Linked DNA regions of Homo sapiens. The protein of the gene in region 2 purifies or fractionates together with the protein of the main gene of each other region. This does not show direct contact. Each region holds a gene or a part of one and is shown on either strand. Other genes may lie near its edges.

Region 1 (4,238 bases), on a different chromosome or scaffold from region 2:
TCCTTTTGAGATGCAAGACTAACTGTATAGACCAACTTAGCCATTGGGAATGGAGTTATAATGAATTCCGGGGAGCATGCAAAAACTATTCACTTGAGAAATATGGTGAGGAAAGCACCAAGAAAATAACCAACTGACTGGGTGAAGTCGAGGGAAGTCCCGCCTTATAATCAGTGCTTAGGATCCCCATCCCCTATGACCTTTCCCCCAAACTGACACTTTCTCTAAAATGTCCATTCCCGTAGCTAAAACACAGGTAACATTTCCTTGAAATTCAATACAACAAAAGTTCATTAACCAAAACTGAAGGAAATACTGAAATGAGATTGCACCTGTGGGATGATGGTTTTAATCTACATATAAATTTCAATTGTTTTAAAACCCAAATTGATTAACGGTACTACAGTTCCCAAGGAAGGCTTCAGGTAAGATGCTTATCATTCGGGTTTCTGCGTGGGACTAACAGGTTACTAGCAGCTCATGGGCAGCAATGACCCTAGGATGACGCCACGCGTGAGACGGCAAAGGGTGAGGGGTGAGGAGCGAGTCCGGCAGGTCCACTGGAGACTCCGAGCCCAAACCCCGCTCCCCTGAGCCGACCCGACTCGCCTCCTAGGTCTGGGGCGGCAACTAACAGCGCGCCCGGAGCACGTCCACAGGTTCAACCCGAAAAGCACAAGGGTCGGCCGTCCAGCGACCTCTCTTACCAGGGGGTCATAGAGCACCACGGAGCAGGACGTGCCAAAGGCCAGAAGTCCTCTGGGCCCAGAGCTCCAGTTCAGGACTCCCCGCACCCGGTTTGGGCAGCAAAACACGTGAGAAGTCTCCAGCACGGGTGCCACCATGTCGCCAACTGGTCAGCCGCACAAACAAGAGACGCGCACTTCCGCCCTCGGAGCGGAACTACTAGGGTGGTTTCTCCTGAGGCATCACCCAGTCCACGTTTCGCAGCCAGCCGAGGGCCAGACGGAGGCAGCCCCGCCCCCCTGAGACTCTCCGTTCCCACCGCAGGCTGGAACCCCTGTGCAAGGCCGCCGCTTTGCTAGCTCTGCTCTTGGACCGTGGCCCCGCTCCGCGAACGAGCCAGGCCTTTGTCTCAAGAGCGAAATCCGACCCGAGTGGCTCGGGACCCTCCCGAAGGACCCGGGGCTCATGTGCCTGGGGCAGCGTCAGAAACATCTCGCTGCCCCTTACGACCCGGCTCCCAGCAGCAGCCAGGGCTGGCCCCGGGGGCGCTGGCTAGCGAGTAGGGCCTCGAGGAAATGACCCCCAACTGCTTACAATGCGCTAGGGCCGCGCCACGCCCCCGCGGCGTCGGCGAACACACGGAAAAGCGGATCCGTCTGCGGAGCCGGGTTCCGGGGTCGCACTGCGCATGCCCTGCAGTCCTGGGCGAAGGGGGCGGTGGTTCCCCGCGGCGCTGCGCGCGGCGGTAATTAGTGATTGTCTTCCAGCTTCGCGAAGGCTAGGGGCGCGGCTGCCGGGTGGCTGCGCGGCGCTGCCCCCGGACCGAGGGGCAGCCAACCCAATGAAACCACCGCGTGTTCGCGCCTGGTAGAGATTTCTCGAAGACACCAGTGGGCCCGTTCCGAGCCCTCTGGACCGCCCGTGTGGAACCAAACCTGCGCGCGTGGCCGGGCCGTGGGACAACGAGGCCGCGGAGACGTGAGTCTTTCAGGTCCGGGAGCAGGGCGGCTGGGAGGGGAGCTCCTCAGGCCAGACAGGCGTGGCGGGGTAGGGGTGGTTCTGCGGAGAACCGGATCCTGCGGACCGGGCAGGGGGGCTACAGAAAGAGGATGCTGGGGGGAGCCCGCCGCAGGCGCCCACTCACCCTAGAGAGCCGGACTTCTTAAGGTGCTCAGATGGGCTTCGGGGTGCAACGGAGGATTTTTTGAGGAAAAGATCCGTACTTTTCATCCCATATTCGAAGAAGGGACTGACGTGTTTAGAAATAAAAAGCTTTTAGAAGAGAGCTTTGTGCCCTCTTTTCCGTTTTCTGTACTCGCCTTTTTCTCTAAGGCCCTTCCCTTCTGCTTTCCTTTTTCCTCCAGCACACACCAACTTGCAGGAAAGGAGATCCTTCAACGGGTCCACGACCGCGCTCAGCATCCTCCCTGGAGAAAGGCTCGGAGCTGTCCCCTGTGCTAGTCCCCTCCCACCCCGCTCCTCGCCTCTCTCCTGGGAATGATTTCTAAATGTTTATCTTTTACCTAGTAAAAGAATTCCCGAAACTTCAAGCCCCAAAGATTCCTCTTTCAGGAGCCTCGTTCTACGCCGTACCTCCATTTCCCACTGTTCCCTGTATGATACCTCGCACTTGTGCAACACATGAGTTTAACGAGTACTTGTAATATACATTCCTTCATGTGTTTTCCTCCTTCGCCTTGCAAAATAGGTTTTACCGGTATTTTAGATAAGGTAATGAATGCGAGAGCCCTGTCCAAAGAACAGCTGACCGTGGTAGAGCTGGATAGCCCCATGCTCTTGCTTAGTTGTAAACTTGACGTCTGCGTCTTTTGCTGGAGATGTGAGTTTGACCACCATCACCTCCACCGTTGGTGCTGGACATCCTGCTGGATCTGAATTAACTGAATTCTGGCTCTGCTTAACTGAATTCTGCTTTTCAAGCTCCAACTCAATTGCTTCCTCCTCTTTGGGGCACAGGCCTTTGGTTCCAAACACTACTGTGGATGATTAACAGCCTGTGATTAAATGTTGACTGGTTTGTAGTAACACAAGGATGCTACAGTGAGTTTTTCATGAAGTTCAGTTTACTTTAAGAATTCTATGTATGGACATAATGTGTCTGATTCATTGTCAAGTCGGAAAAAAGATTCAATGTGTATTTAAAGTATACACTTATTTGAGGCTGGGCGTAGTGGTCACGCCTGTAATCCCAGCACTTTGGGAATTGGAGGTGGAGGATCTCTTGAGGCCAGGAGTTCAAGACCAACCCGGACAACATAGTGAGACCTCGTCTCTAGAAAAAAAAAAAAAAAACTTTAAAAAAAAAATTAAGTATACATGTATTTGAGTATGCATAGAAAATATCCTGAGGGATACACTGGCAAAATTGAGCACCTTTGAGGATTGTGATTGGGGAAAGGGGTCTTAAATGGGCTTGTATGTAAGGAGAGTGTATTAGTTTAAAATTTTTTAAATATGTGAATTCTGAGATTATTATTTCTATTTTTTGGTGTTTGAAGGTTATTTTATGAAATGATGGTGATGATCAAGGTAGCTAGATTTCATTTCGTTCTTTTTTTTTTTTGAGACAGGGTTTCACAATGTTGCCCAGGCTGGTCACAAACTCCTGGCCTCAGGTGATCTGCCTGCCTCAGCCTCCCAAAGTGCTGGGATTATAGGCATGAGCCACCACACCCAGCCTAGATTTAATTATGAATCATTGGCCTCAATGATTCAAATAATCGTTCAAATAAATTCTCAACTTCAGTAAGCAGTTGATGGCTGTGGCCACATGGATCTCCCTTGTCTCTGAATTACTATTGCTTTTACAGTGCTAATGGCAGTCTCTTAGCACTCAGCTCTTCTCCAGTTGTTTCATGTGTTTTAGGAATGCAAGGGTAGAGCCTAGGACTCTAGTTCTTTCCATCTTCACAGTACCTAGCGTCACACTGGTCACACCACATGATGCTCTGGCAACTTTGATTATTTGATTACACATTAATTTTCAGTATGAGGTTTCTTAATTCAATTTGTTTTAGAAGTGAGTCAAGAATTTTTTTTTCCTGTCTTTTCTAGGAAGGCGCAATGGCGAGGAAGTTATCTGTAATCTTGATCCTGACCTTTGCCCTCTCTGTCACAAATCCCCTTCATGAACTAAAAGCAGCTGCTTTCCCCCAGACCACTGAGAAAATTAGTCCGAATTGGGAATCTGGCATTAATGTTGACTTGGCAATTTCCACACGGCAATATCATCTACAACAGCTTTTCTACCGCTATGGAGAAAATAATTCTTTGTCAGTTGAAGGGTTCAGAAAATTACTTCAAAATATAGGCATAGATAAGATTAAAAGAATCCATATACACCATGACCACGACCATCACTCAGACCACGAGCATCACTCAGACCATGAGCGTCACTCAGACCATGAGCATCACTCAGAGCACGAGCATCACTCTGACCATGATCATCACTCTCACCATAATCATGCTGCTTCTGGTAAAAATAAGCGAAAAGCTCTTTGCCCAGACCATGACTCAGATAGTTCAGGTAA
Region 2 (4,906 bases):
GGTTTCACCATGTTAGCCAGGATGGTCTCGATCTCCTGCCCTCGTGATCCACCCGCCTCTGCCTCCAAAGTGCTGGGATTACAGGCATGAGCCACCGTGCCCAGCAAAGATATTATCTTTTATGTCATTTCTATGATTAGAAGACAAAGTTAATAAAATAAGAAAATGCCTCCAGATACCATTTGTCTTTGGAGTTGCAAATAATGCCCCAAAAAAGCATGGGAGGAGGGAAATAAAAGGTGGAAAGTGGAAAGGATGACAGGGGAAGGAAGAAGAAATAAGTAAGAGATGAATGTGAAGAACTTAAGTCAAAATAGGAAGGAAAAGTGGAAGGAGTAACAGAAAACATGTTTATCAGTTGAAAAAGATGACAAGCTAACACAGCCAGACCACAGTAGCAGAGAAACCAAATAGGAAAAAAAAGTGATTTCAAATATGGAACTAAACCATGGATCAGGAAAAAAGAGCTTTAGTATAACAGATTTTTAAGAGACACTAGAGAAAAGAGGGAAAAGAGTGGTCCTTGTGATGTCGGTTAATATGCATTAAAGTAGATTCGTACTTATGTCAGTTTATATGGTTACAACTGTCTGGGTCCTATTATTTCTAAAGGTCCTAGAAAACACTCAAAACCATAGTGATGCCTTTGAAAAAAGAGACTGAGGGGAGTTTAACTGGAGATTGAAGAGAACCCTCAGAAAAGCAACTATAGGTCCAGCCAAGTCTCATGGAAGCATCACTCTGGGAAATAAAGCGCAATCCCTATTTAGGACTTGTTTTCTAGCTCTGAAATTCTAGTTTATCTAGGACAGGGATTCTCAACCCTCCTTTAAGCAGCAGAACCCTTTCTTTAAATGAAGTGGAACTCACAGATAACATAAGATCCTAAGAGAGCTGCTGCTGTTCGAATGAGGTTGGGAGCCCAGGAGCTGTGGCCAGCCCACTTCTAGGCCTTTCTCTGCAGCCTGAAGCAGTTCCTGAGGCACTTCCTCCTCAGACCCTAGAAAACAGTTTGGGGACCACTGGTCCAGGAAGTGGCAGGGAAACCTGTTCTGTACTGCTGCTCTCTGGAAACAATCATAAGGTACAGAATGTTTGCTGCTATACAGTGACTGGAAAGATGCATGCAACACGGTGCCCAAGGTAAGACCAGTTTTAGGAAAAAATACAAATAATGGAGTTCATGTAACAAAGTCCCCCTTCCTTTTCCCATTAAGGCCATAGGAGAGTTTAACCAAGTTTACAGTAAATCTTCTGCCCCCATAGAAATGCTAAAAATTTGGAGAAAGACCTCAGAGACCACTAAACGTGATGCTACCGACTACAACTGCTTACCAAAGAAAATCACGTCTCATAAAAGACAAGTTGTTTTAATCCTCAATTGTTCATATATTACAGTAAGAAAATAAGCAAATCTGAACTTGCTGAAGTAGCTGTACAAAATTTAACACAGAAACCAGTCACAGCAGAAAGAGGCTACTGGCAGCATGGCTGAGGGGAGGCGAATTTCAAATACTGATGCTGACTTGCCACAGGACCAAAAGTAAGTCACAAAATAGTTATTTTGCTTAAATTTTCCCAGAGCGTGCTTCCCAAGCCATCTCCTTGGGATGTGAGGAATCTTGACATGATAATTATAAAATTCTAGAACAAGAGGTCACCTGAGCTCAGAGCTCACAAGTTCATCTGACTGGTCTACATTTATAGGCACTAGAGGCTGGGCATGGTGGCTCACGTCTGTAATCCCAGCATTTTGGGAGGCCGAGGTGGGAGGATCTCTTGAAACCAGGTGTTTGAGACCAGCTGGGCAACATGGTGAAACCCCGTCTCTATAAAAAATACAAAAATTAGCCAGGCACGGTGGCATGAGCCTCTAGTCCCAGCTACCTGGGAGACTGAGGCAGGAGGACTGCCTGAGCCTGAGGAGGTCAAGGCTGCAGTGAGCCATGATTGTGACACTGCACTCCAGCCTAGGCAACAGAGCGAGACCCTGTCTCCAAAAAAGAAAGAAAGAAGGCACTAGAGAAAGAGGGGAAGCATTGTCCTATTTCGAAAGAACATTAGCAACAGGGGCTCTACAAAAAGATTAACACTGTCAAAAAATAAATCAAAATCCATCAAGCCCAGTGTTTATCAACCAGGATTGATTTTGCCCTCTAGGGGGCAATGGGAGTAGACAGGAGAGTTTCCAGTAATCACAAGGACCTGGGGGTACTACTGCCATTTAGTGGGCAAGGCCAGAAAAGTTAGACTTCCTGCAGTGTGGGGGGCAGTCTCGCACAATGAAAAACAGTATCACCTAAAATACTGAGCCCAATACAAAGTTTCCCATAAACACAAACCATGAAGAGATATGACCCTCTAATTTGGGTTTAACTTTAGTGTTTAATAACCATCCTAGGTTCTCTGATCACAATCTAAGTTCTCTCTAGACTTAAGAGTCTACGGAGAGATGCACCTCTTCCTTATAAAATAAACTCTGGAACATCTACTAAGTCTTTCCTTACTTGGCCTTCTCCTTTCCAAAATAAAGGAAGTTTGATAAGTATCCTAAGGTAATACAAGACAGTACTACAGTAATGATTTCTGTGAGAGATGGCCACCTGTAGTAATTATCTCCCACTGCCATGACCGGAAAGTACTGATGGGCCCTAAAATTTAGTTTTTAGCTGAGAATGGGACACAAGGCAAGAAGGACTGAAAGCAGGGTGGGTATCAGAAGGAAAAAGCAGAAGAGTTTTAAGTAAGGGAAGCCAAAAGGGGTTTATTAACTGCATTGCCTCTTTGATCAAACTGTGAAATTCTAGAGCACGGAATTTTAACCAGGGTCTTATGGGTAGAGGAAAGGGGAAATAAAAGTTTGAAGCCCCCAAAATCATACACAAAATGTTGAATGTAAGCACTTTTTGAAGAGAGGATTCCTACCTTTATCACTTTCAAAGAGCTACAGGACCCCAGAAAGGATAAGAATCTCTGCTACAGTGACTCATCTGAATTCCAAAGGAAGAATAAATGGTATAGAACAGAAATTCAATATAACCAATTTAAGGAACAAAATGTCAGACCAAGTTGTATCAACTCAACCACCCATATAAAAATAACAACTGTTTGCCAAAGCAAACGTATGGCAATTTCACATAAACAATGAAGAAAATCAACTGAGAAATCTTGAGAAATGGCTTGCGGTGCCTGAAGACTTAGGACCAGATGATACACTGGGGATCCAGTCAGTCAGTAGAAACTGCTCCAAACCTCAAGGGAAAAGAAAAGTGGGCCCAACCAGTGGTTTGAGTGGTCCAATGAGGCTTCTTAACCATTGAGCCTGTTGCTTTTCTCTTTGGCATTTTAGATTCTAGGTCCTTAGGAATGCTTGAAAACATGGCCAAGAAAGGATTGAAAAAAAAAAAAAACAAAAAAAACTCCTAAAGCTTTTTCTATGGATTTATATGAGGGAACCACTCTGGGGACAGAGAATTCCACAATAAGTTCATAAAATTCTGGTGAACCTAGACATTATTTAAGAACAGATGCAGGACTCTTCACTCAAAATAAGCCATCATCCACTGTTGGGCTGACTAATTATATCTCCCAAAAAAAATTTGCCACTGCGAAGTATGTTTAAGGCAAAGATCTTACTTTTCAGCCTAAGGGCGTAAAGCCCTCAGCTTCAGGGCTTGGTTCCAGGAGTCTTGCTACTTTGTGGTCCAGAACCAGCAGCATTCAGCATCACTGGCATCGTCTAAGAGCTTGTTAAAAATGCAGACTCTCCAGGTGCAGTGGCTCCCACCCATAATCCCAGCACTTTGGGAGGCAAAGGTGGATGGATCACTTGAGGTCAGTTAGAGACCAGCCTGGCCAACATAGAAACCTCGTCTCTACTAAAAATACAAAAATTAGACAGGTGTGGTGGTGCACACCTGTAATCCCAGCTACTTGGGAGGCTGAGGCATGAGAATTACTTAAACCCGGGAGGCGGAGGCTGCAGTGAGCCCAGATTGCCACTGCACTCCAGTCTGGGAAACAGAGCAGGACTGTCTTTAAAAAAAAAAAAAAAAAAAAAAAAAAAAAAAAAAAAGCAGACTCTCAGACCTAGCCCCTGATGTACTAACTCATAATCTGCATTTTAACAAGACCCCCAGGTGATTCCTATGTACATCAAAGCCAAGAAGCACTACCGTAAGTAACTCCCGCTATGAATAAACATACTAATGAGGCTGTCACGTTATGGTGAATTTAAAGGGCAGAACCACAGAAAGATAGAACGCTGGACCAACTGCCAAGGTTCTGACTAGTAGAAGTATTGTAGCTCAGGTAGTCAACATGCTGAACAAGATAACTTTTCTTTTTGTGTTTTTCCTTTTGTAAACCTAAGGATAAAGAAAAAAATAAATGTCCAAGATTCACTTACCCATTGATAGATGTTCTAGACATAAACAGGCTAAAAACAGATGACACAAAAGAATGATATAATTGGATAAATAGCCAGCCCGATTTCTCAATGCTGTTGTTTAAGAAGATCTGTGTTCCTTGATCAAGGTAACTCTGAACAAAGACAGCCTGGAGTGATTCGCATAATTTCTCTCTGTTGCACACATACCACTAAAAAAAAAAAAAAAAAAAGAACAAAAATTAAAACACACAACCGAAGTGTCACCTAAGAAATCCAAAAACAAAAAACCAGAAGACTAAATCACATCTAAGATTTCCAAATATTACCATCTCATGATACTCTGAGAATAATCATTTCGTATACTCATATAACCTATAAAATATAAAGTACTTCTTCAGACATGACTTCTCATTTAATTCTCTTACAGCCCTCAAGGTAGGTAGAGTGGGTGAGGGAAGGGTGGAGAGGCTTTTGGGTCATTCAGCTTAGTAGGCAGCAGAACCAGACCACAGCTCA
Region 3 (3,500 bases), on a different chromosome or scaffold from region 2:
TCTGGAGCCCTTAATATTAAAGGAATCTCTTTAGTGCCACTAACCAGCAGATATATACAAGAATGAAAGAAAACTTTGGCTGCTATGTCAGCTGCTGGGAACCTGGACAGAGAACACTTGTCCCTGAAGGGTGTAGAGATAAGAGCCTTCTAAGAATGAGCATGGATGGCATATAAGGAGCCTCATCCCACCTGGGAGAGAATGAGACTCTTAAAGGGAAACAGTGAGGAACATCTCTGTGCCCAGTTTGAGATAAATGGACTGGAATATGGGAGATCACAGAGTCAGCAAACATACAATACAGCCAACACAAAGTACCTGCATGTGTGGAGCAAGAAAATCTAACCCTCTACTATAAATATGAGTTCTATGTGTCTTCTGCTCTCACATCAATAATTCACCTGTTCACTTTCCTCTCCCTCCCAACTCTCCCCCTCTTTTCTCTATGCCCTCTACATTCTTTAACATGAACACCTTCTTTAACACACTACAATGTGACCATCCTCCAAGCCACAAGCTATGACCTTAGACTTCTGCCCCCATCCATTGGTACTTTCTTAGTTAACCCCATCCATCCACATGTGCTGGATGATCATTCAGATGACTTCAAATTGGATATTTTCAATCCTGGTTTGTTGTTCCATAATTTCAATTGTCAGCTGGTCAAAGGCTACTTTACAATTTAATACACCTGAAACAGACTTAATTCCACTCTTGCTAGCCAAGTTGGTCTCTTAATTTCACATCTTTTTCACTAAAATCATCATTTTTTAGTCCTTGGATCATAAAAATTTGAAACCATTGCTGAAACTTACCTCTACCTGGCCCCCAGGCCATATCAGAATGAAGATTTCATCCTTACCTTAGAGCTTTCAACTGCTCAAAAATTGCAATCACATCTCTTTTCACCATTAGAAATCAGTAGATTTGGCCAGGCAAGGTGGCCTATGCCTGTAATTCCAGCACTTTGGGAGGCCAAGGTGGGGTGGATCACCTGAGGTCAGGAGTTTGAGATCAGCCTGGCCAACATGGCAAAACCCCCATCTCTACAAAAATACAAAAATTAGCTGGGTGTGATGATGCAGGCCTGTAATCCCAGCTACTCAGGAGGCTGAGGCAGGAGAACCACTTGAACCCAGGAGGCAGAGGTTGCAATGAGCTGAGATCATGCCACTGCACTCCAGCCTGGGCAACAGAGTGAGACTCTGTCTCAAAAAAGGAAAAGAAAAAGAAATCAGTAGATTTGAAAGAAATCTTCTAAAACATTTTGAGACAAATGCAAAATAAAACACCTGTATAAGGAAAACACCCTGACTATGAGCCTTAAAGACCCTTTCAGCCCTTCCTGATTCTATTCTATCCCCCACCTACCATGTTTCTGAACTTTGCTTTTCTTTATAGTTTTACCACGTTTGTATCTATAAATAACGTATTGTTTAATTATGCATATTTCTAAAACCTTTAAAGAAAAGGAACCCTAGTTTACCTATTTTTTTTGGTAACTTGCTCTTTTCTTTCAACACAAAGTTCATGAGCTTCATCCATGTCGGTGAGCAAGTGATAATTCACTCATTTTAGTGATGTAGAGTATCCTAATGTGTGAATAGACCTCAGTGTGCTTTTCGGTTCTACTGTTGATGGGTATTTGGGTTGTTACCAATTTTTTGCTATTGCAATCACTGTTGCTATAAATATTGTCAGGAATTTTCCCTATAATGAGAGAACTCTTGGATACCAAACAGAGTAGAATTATTGGATCATAGGATTTGGGGTTTTTAACTAGCTAATGCCATATCATTTTCCAAAACAGGTATGATGGTTAATTTTACGTGTCAATTTGAAGGGTGTTTTGGGATGAGATTAACATTTAAATTGGTGAATTTTGAATAAGCAGTTTGCCTCCATAATGTAGGTGAGCCTAATTCAACAAAAAGACCAGCCTCCCCAAGCAAGAGGGATTCTGCAGCAGATGACCTGGGCTTCACCTGTACCATCGGCTCTCCTGGGTCTGCAGCCTGCAAGCCCACACTGCAAATTTGGGCTTATCAGTCTCCATGATCATATGATATAATTTGGCCGTGTGCCCACCCAAATCTCATCTTGAGTTGTAGTTCCCATAACCCTCACGTGTCGTGGGAGAGACCAGGTGGAGATAACTGAATCATGGGGGTGGTTTCCCCCATCCTGTTCTCATGATAGTGAGTTAGTTCTCATGAGATCTGATGGTTTTATAAGGGGCTTCCCCTGCTCTGGGCACTCACTCTTCTTCTCCCTGCTACCATGTGAAGGACATATTTGCTTCCCCTTCCACCATGATTGTAAGTTTCCTGAGGCCTCCCCACCCATACTGAACTGAGAATCAATTAAACCTCTTTCCTTTATAAATTACCCTGTCTCAGGTATGTCTTTATTAGCAGCATGAAAACTGAGTAATACAGTAAATGAGTACAGCAGAGAGTGGAGGGTTGCTGTAAAGATATCCACAAGTGTGAAAGCAACTTTGGAACTGGGTAACAGGTAGAGGTTGGAACAGTTTTGAGGGCTCAGAAGAAGACAGGAAAATGTGGGAAATTTGGGAACTTCCTAGAAATTTGTTGAATGACATTGACCAAAATGCTGACAGTGATATAAACAATGAAGTCCAGGCTGAGGTGGTCTCAGATGGAGATGAGGAACTTTTTGGGAAATGGAGTAAAGGTCACTCTTGCTATGCAAAGAGTTTGGTGGCATTTTGCCCCTGCCCCAGAGATCTGTGGAACTTTGAACTTGAGAGAGATAATTTAGGGTATCTGGCAGAAGAAACTTCTAAGGGGCAAAGCATTCAAGAGGAAGCAGAGCATAAAAAATTTGGAAAATTTGCAGCCTGATGATGCGACAGAAAAGAAAAACATTTTCTGGGAAGAAATTCCAGCCAGCTGCAGAAATTTGCATAAGTAATGAGGAGCCAAATGTAAATCACCAAGACAATGGGGAAAATGTCTCCAAGGCATGTCAGAGACCTTCATGGCAGCCCCTTCCATCATAAGCCTAGGAGGGAAAAGTGATTTCCTGGGCCAAGCCTAAGACCCCCTGCTCTATGCAGCCTCGGGACTGCATATGGTGCCCTATGTCCCAGCCACGGCTAAAAGGGGCCAACATACAGCTCAGGCTGTTGCTTCAGAGGGTGCAAGCCCCAAGCCTTGACAGCTTACACGTGGTGTTGGGCCTGCGGGTGCACAGAAGTCAAGAACTGTGGTTTGAGAACCTCTGCCTAGACTTCAGAAAATGTACAGAAACACCTGGGTGTCCATTCAGAAGTTGCTGCAAGGGCAGAGCCCTCATGGAAGACCTCTGCTAGGGCACTGCAGCAGGGAAATGTGGGGTTGGAGCCCCCACACAGAATCCCCACTGGGGCACTGTCTAGTAGAGCTGTGAGAAGAGGGCCACCATCCTTCAGACCCCACAATCTGAATCTGATCCACAGACGGCTTGCACCATGCAACTGGAGAAGCCACAGACAC
Region 4 (3,500 bases), on a different chromosome or scaffold from region 2:
AATCACTTCCCGGGTGAGGCTGGCGGGGTCGCCATCGAGAGCGCTGACTGAGGGTGGCCTGCCAGGTGCTGGGCGCGTCCAGAAGAAGAGGAGCAGCAGGGCATTCCAGGCCACAAAGAGGATAGCGCCCCACAGCACAAGCCCTGCAGACTGCTTCTTCAGCATCCTGGCCCCCACCGGGGAGGGCAGGCCAGGGGACGGTTCAAGGCTGCCCTGGGCTTGCCCGGCTCCCTTGCCCGCAGTCCTAGGGATGCCTCCTCTGGACTATGGGATTAGGAGGCAGCCATGCACCTAAAGACAGGAGAGAGAAAGCAAACCGTCACACAAAGGCTCGTGGCTCCATGCCCCACAGGTAGAGGAAATGGGGGCAGGAAAAGGCCAAGAGTGAGGGTGGAGGAAGGCCAGGAGGTTGACTCCAGAGCTCTCTAGGGAGTCAACATATATCCTGACCCAGGAACGTATTTTTGAGGGAGAGGCAGAGAGTGATGCTGGTGGAGGGAGAGAGAAAAAGAACCCCAACTCCCCTCTTTCTACCTGTCAGATTTCATTTCCCCTCCAGGTGGGAAGGAGGAGGGGAGGGGCAAGGAGTGACAGCATCTGCCTACCATTCCTCTAACCTAAGCGCCCCAAGATGACTGATTTTTAAAATCAAATGTCCCACCTCAGGGCTACAGTTAACCCCTTACCAACAGGGAAGCACCAGAGGCACCCCACGAATGTCAGGAGCAAAACGAAGTTGCCCATCATCTCCAGGGTTATTTAACATTTTGCTGGAGGAAGCAGCCAATGCAAATGAACCAAGAAAAAAAAATTCAAAGCAGAAGTGGAAAGGAAGCAAACTATTTCTATTATCTTTACTTGTGAGAATATGCCTGGAAAACTCAAAAAGAATCAATAATGAACTGAGCAAGGAAGTGTAATATAAAAATCAACATATACTAATGGATAGCCTTCATATCCACAAATAACTCATGAGAAGAAAACATGGATGAGAAAACCCTACTTACAAAAGCCAGAGAAATGAGAAAATATTTAGAAATAAACTTAAATAAACTTAAACATTCAAAACTTATGTGAACAAAACTATCATTCCTGAAAGACACAAAAGAACATCTGAATATCCCTTGTTCTTGGTCAGGACATTTCAGCATCATCAAAAATCCCAATAAAAATACCTTTTTATGGAGCTAGACGAACTGACAGTAAAGTTCACATGAAAAACTAGGAAAACAATAAAAATAAGCTGTGAGGAGGGACTCAGCCCTACCAGATATGAAAATACTGCATACTGGCCAGATGCAGTAGCTCCTACCTGCAATCCCAGCACTTTGGGAGGCCAATACAGGAGGATCACTTGAGCCCAGGAGTTCAAGAATAGCCTGGGCAGCACACGGAGACCCTGTCTCTACAAGTAACAATTAAAAAAAAAAAAAAAAAAAGCTGGGCATGGTGGCACGCACCTGTGGTCCCAGCTACTCAGGAGGCTGAGATGGGATCACCTGAGTCTGGGAGGCTGAGGCTGTAGTGAGCTGTGATTGGATTGTGCCATTGCACTCCAGCCTGGGCAAGAGAGTGAGACTCTGTCTCAAAAAAATTTTTTTTTATTATATATATATATATATGGCATACTACAAAACCTCCATAATTACAACTGCGTGGTACTGGTACATAAATAAACAGACCATCCAGTGAAATAGAATTTAAGCTCCAGAAACAGACTCATTACACAAAAAAATCTAATATGTAATAAAGGTGCTACTTAAAATTCCCAAGGCAAAGATGGTCTTATTAATAGTGTTATAATAATTACGTAGCTATGCTATAGCTTGAATATGGTTTGTTCTCTGAAACACATGTTGGGATTTGATCCCCTGTGTGGTGGTGCTGCCGGAGGTGGGGTCTAGTGGTAGGTGTTTGGATCACAAGGGGGGCAGGGGCAGATCCTTCCTAACGTCCTCTGGTGAGTGAGCTAGTTCCCCAGGGATAACAGGCTGTTATAACCAAGCCCAGTCTCTCCTGCATGCCCCATTTCTTTCTACTTTCAGCCATGTCCCTACAAAAACCTACACAGGAGTGTTGATGGTAACTTTATTCATAATCACTCAAAACTGGAAATAACCCAAAGGCCCATCAACAGGGAAATACAGATAAACAAATTGTGGTTTACTCATAGAATGGAATAATATTCAGCAATAAAACTGAATAAACCACTGACATACACAACACAATCTCCAAATAATTACACAATATGGGTCTTTTTGGGAAAAACAAAAAAGAGCACATACACTGTGATTCCATTGACATAAAACTGCCGAAAATAGAAACTAATCTATATTACAGAAAGCAGATCAGTTGTTGCCTGGGGATGGAGGCAGAGAAGGGCAGTAGGGTAGTTACTACACAGGGGCATTAGGAAGCTTCTAGAAGGGTGGATATGTTTATTATCTTGATTGTGGTGATACTTTTACAGGTATATATATATATATATATATACACACACACACATATATGTCAAAACTTATCAAATTGTACACTTTATATGCAGTTCTTTGCACATATTGATATCAATTGTATGTCAATGAAACCTCAAAAAACTTTTTTTAAAAAGACGTTATTGGGTAAAATGACAAAGGTGGAATATGGACAGTAGGTTAAAGTATCAGTGATAACTGATTAATTCCAATTCTTAGGTAATACACACTGAAGTATTGAGAAGTAGAGGACCAGGATAGATGCAACTTCTCAAATGGTTCAGAACAAAAACATACTCTGCACACATAGAGAGCAAATGGAGCAAAATATTAACAGGTGAATCTGAGTAAAGAGAGTGTGTACGAATATCCTTATACTATTTTTTATTCTTGCAATTTGTGTAAGTTTGAAGCTATTTCCACACGAAGTTTCTTGACAATCAAATATGTAGATATTGCCCATAGCTCTGAAGAGCTTCATCCATCAGCGTAATCCCAGCTGGCACATCAGCAAGGCAAATTGAGATGATCTGTTTGCCCTGAATTCCTCGGTCAGTCACCTGACGACGTGTATCACACACCTGCTCTCTGCCAGGCTCTGGGAAGGAACCAGGACACAAACCAGTGAGAAAAAGGCATGGTCCCACCAATCCTCCAAGCTCTACCAGACCACATTACTTGAAAGGATCTGAAACACTCCCCAATTCCCAGCCAGCTGCCACTCCAGACCATAACTCCTTGACTGTCCTGCCTCTGGTCTACCCTTTACACCCCAAAGCTTCAGGCGTGCACCCTCTTACACCAACAGCTCTGCCAGTTGCCCTCTGCCTCACAGGCTACTCTCTAATCCTGGCCAAAACCTTGGGCCTCAGATCTAACCTCTGAGGCTCTGGGCTCTCAAACCAGCAGATCTGGTATAAAAGGGCTGATCCTGAAGGGCCTCTAAAGAGACATGGATTCTGTCTCCCTCCTGGGGAGACTTCACCAGCCCCTGCCAGCATTCACCACCAACCACTTGTCTTCTTCCTA

Evidence for each region. Proteins that work in one complex are often made in the same cells at the same time.
Region 1: the proteins of METTL9 (region 2) and SLC39A6 purify together in Homo sapiens (co-immunoprecipitation; one large-scale study listed by IntAct). This does not show direct contact.
Region 3: the proteins of METTL9 (region 2) and CD226 purify together in Homo sapiens (co-immunoprecipitation; one large-scale study listed by IntAct). This does not show direct contact.
Region 4: the proteins of METTL9 (region 2) and MGAT1 purify together in Homo sapiens (co-immunoprecipitation; one large-scale study listed by IntAct). This does not show direct contact.

The regions. Positions count from the first base shown.
Region 1 is NC_000018.10:36,126,541-36,130,778, reverse strand, and holds the start of SLC39A6 (zinc transporter ZIP6 isoform 1 precursor), read left to right. Parts: upstream 1-1,438; 5' UTR 1,439-1,665; intron 1,666-3,762; 5' UTR 3,763-3,771; coding exon 3,772-4,238. Other genes in the region: ELP2 (elongator complex protein 2), read right to left, coding at 708-845. UniProt on the Homo sapiens protein: Zinc-influx transporter which plays a role in zinc homeostasis and in the induction of epithelial-to-mesenchymal transition (EMT).
Region 2 is NC_000016.10:21,612,338-21,617,243, reverse strand, and holds part of METTL9 (protein-L-histidine N-pros-methyltransferase isoform 1 precursor), read right to left. Parts: intron 4,600-4,906; coding exon 4,409-4,599; intron 1-4,408. UniProt on the Homo sapiens protein: Protein-histidine N-methyltransferase that specifically catalyzes 1-methylhistidine (pros-methylhistidine) methylation of target proteins.
Region 3 is NC_000018.10:69,937,874-69,941,373, forward strand, and holds part of CD226 (CD226 antigen isoform a precursor), read right to left. Parts: intron 1-3,500.
Region 4 is NC_000005.10:180,792,807-180,796,306, forward strand, and holds part of MGAT1 (alpha-1,3-mannosyl-glycoprotein 2-beta-N-acetylglucosaminyltransferase), read right to left. Parts: intron 3,070-3,500; exon of another isoform or gene 2,075-3,069; intron 1,561-2,074; exon of another isoform or gene 1,461-1,560; intron 292-1,460; 5' UTR 166-291; coding exon 1-165. UniProt on the Homo sapiens protein: Initiates complex N-linked carbohydrate formation. Essential for the conversion of high-mannose to hybrid and complex N-glycans.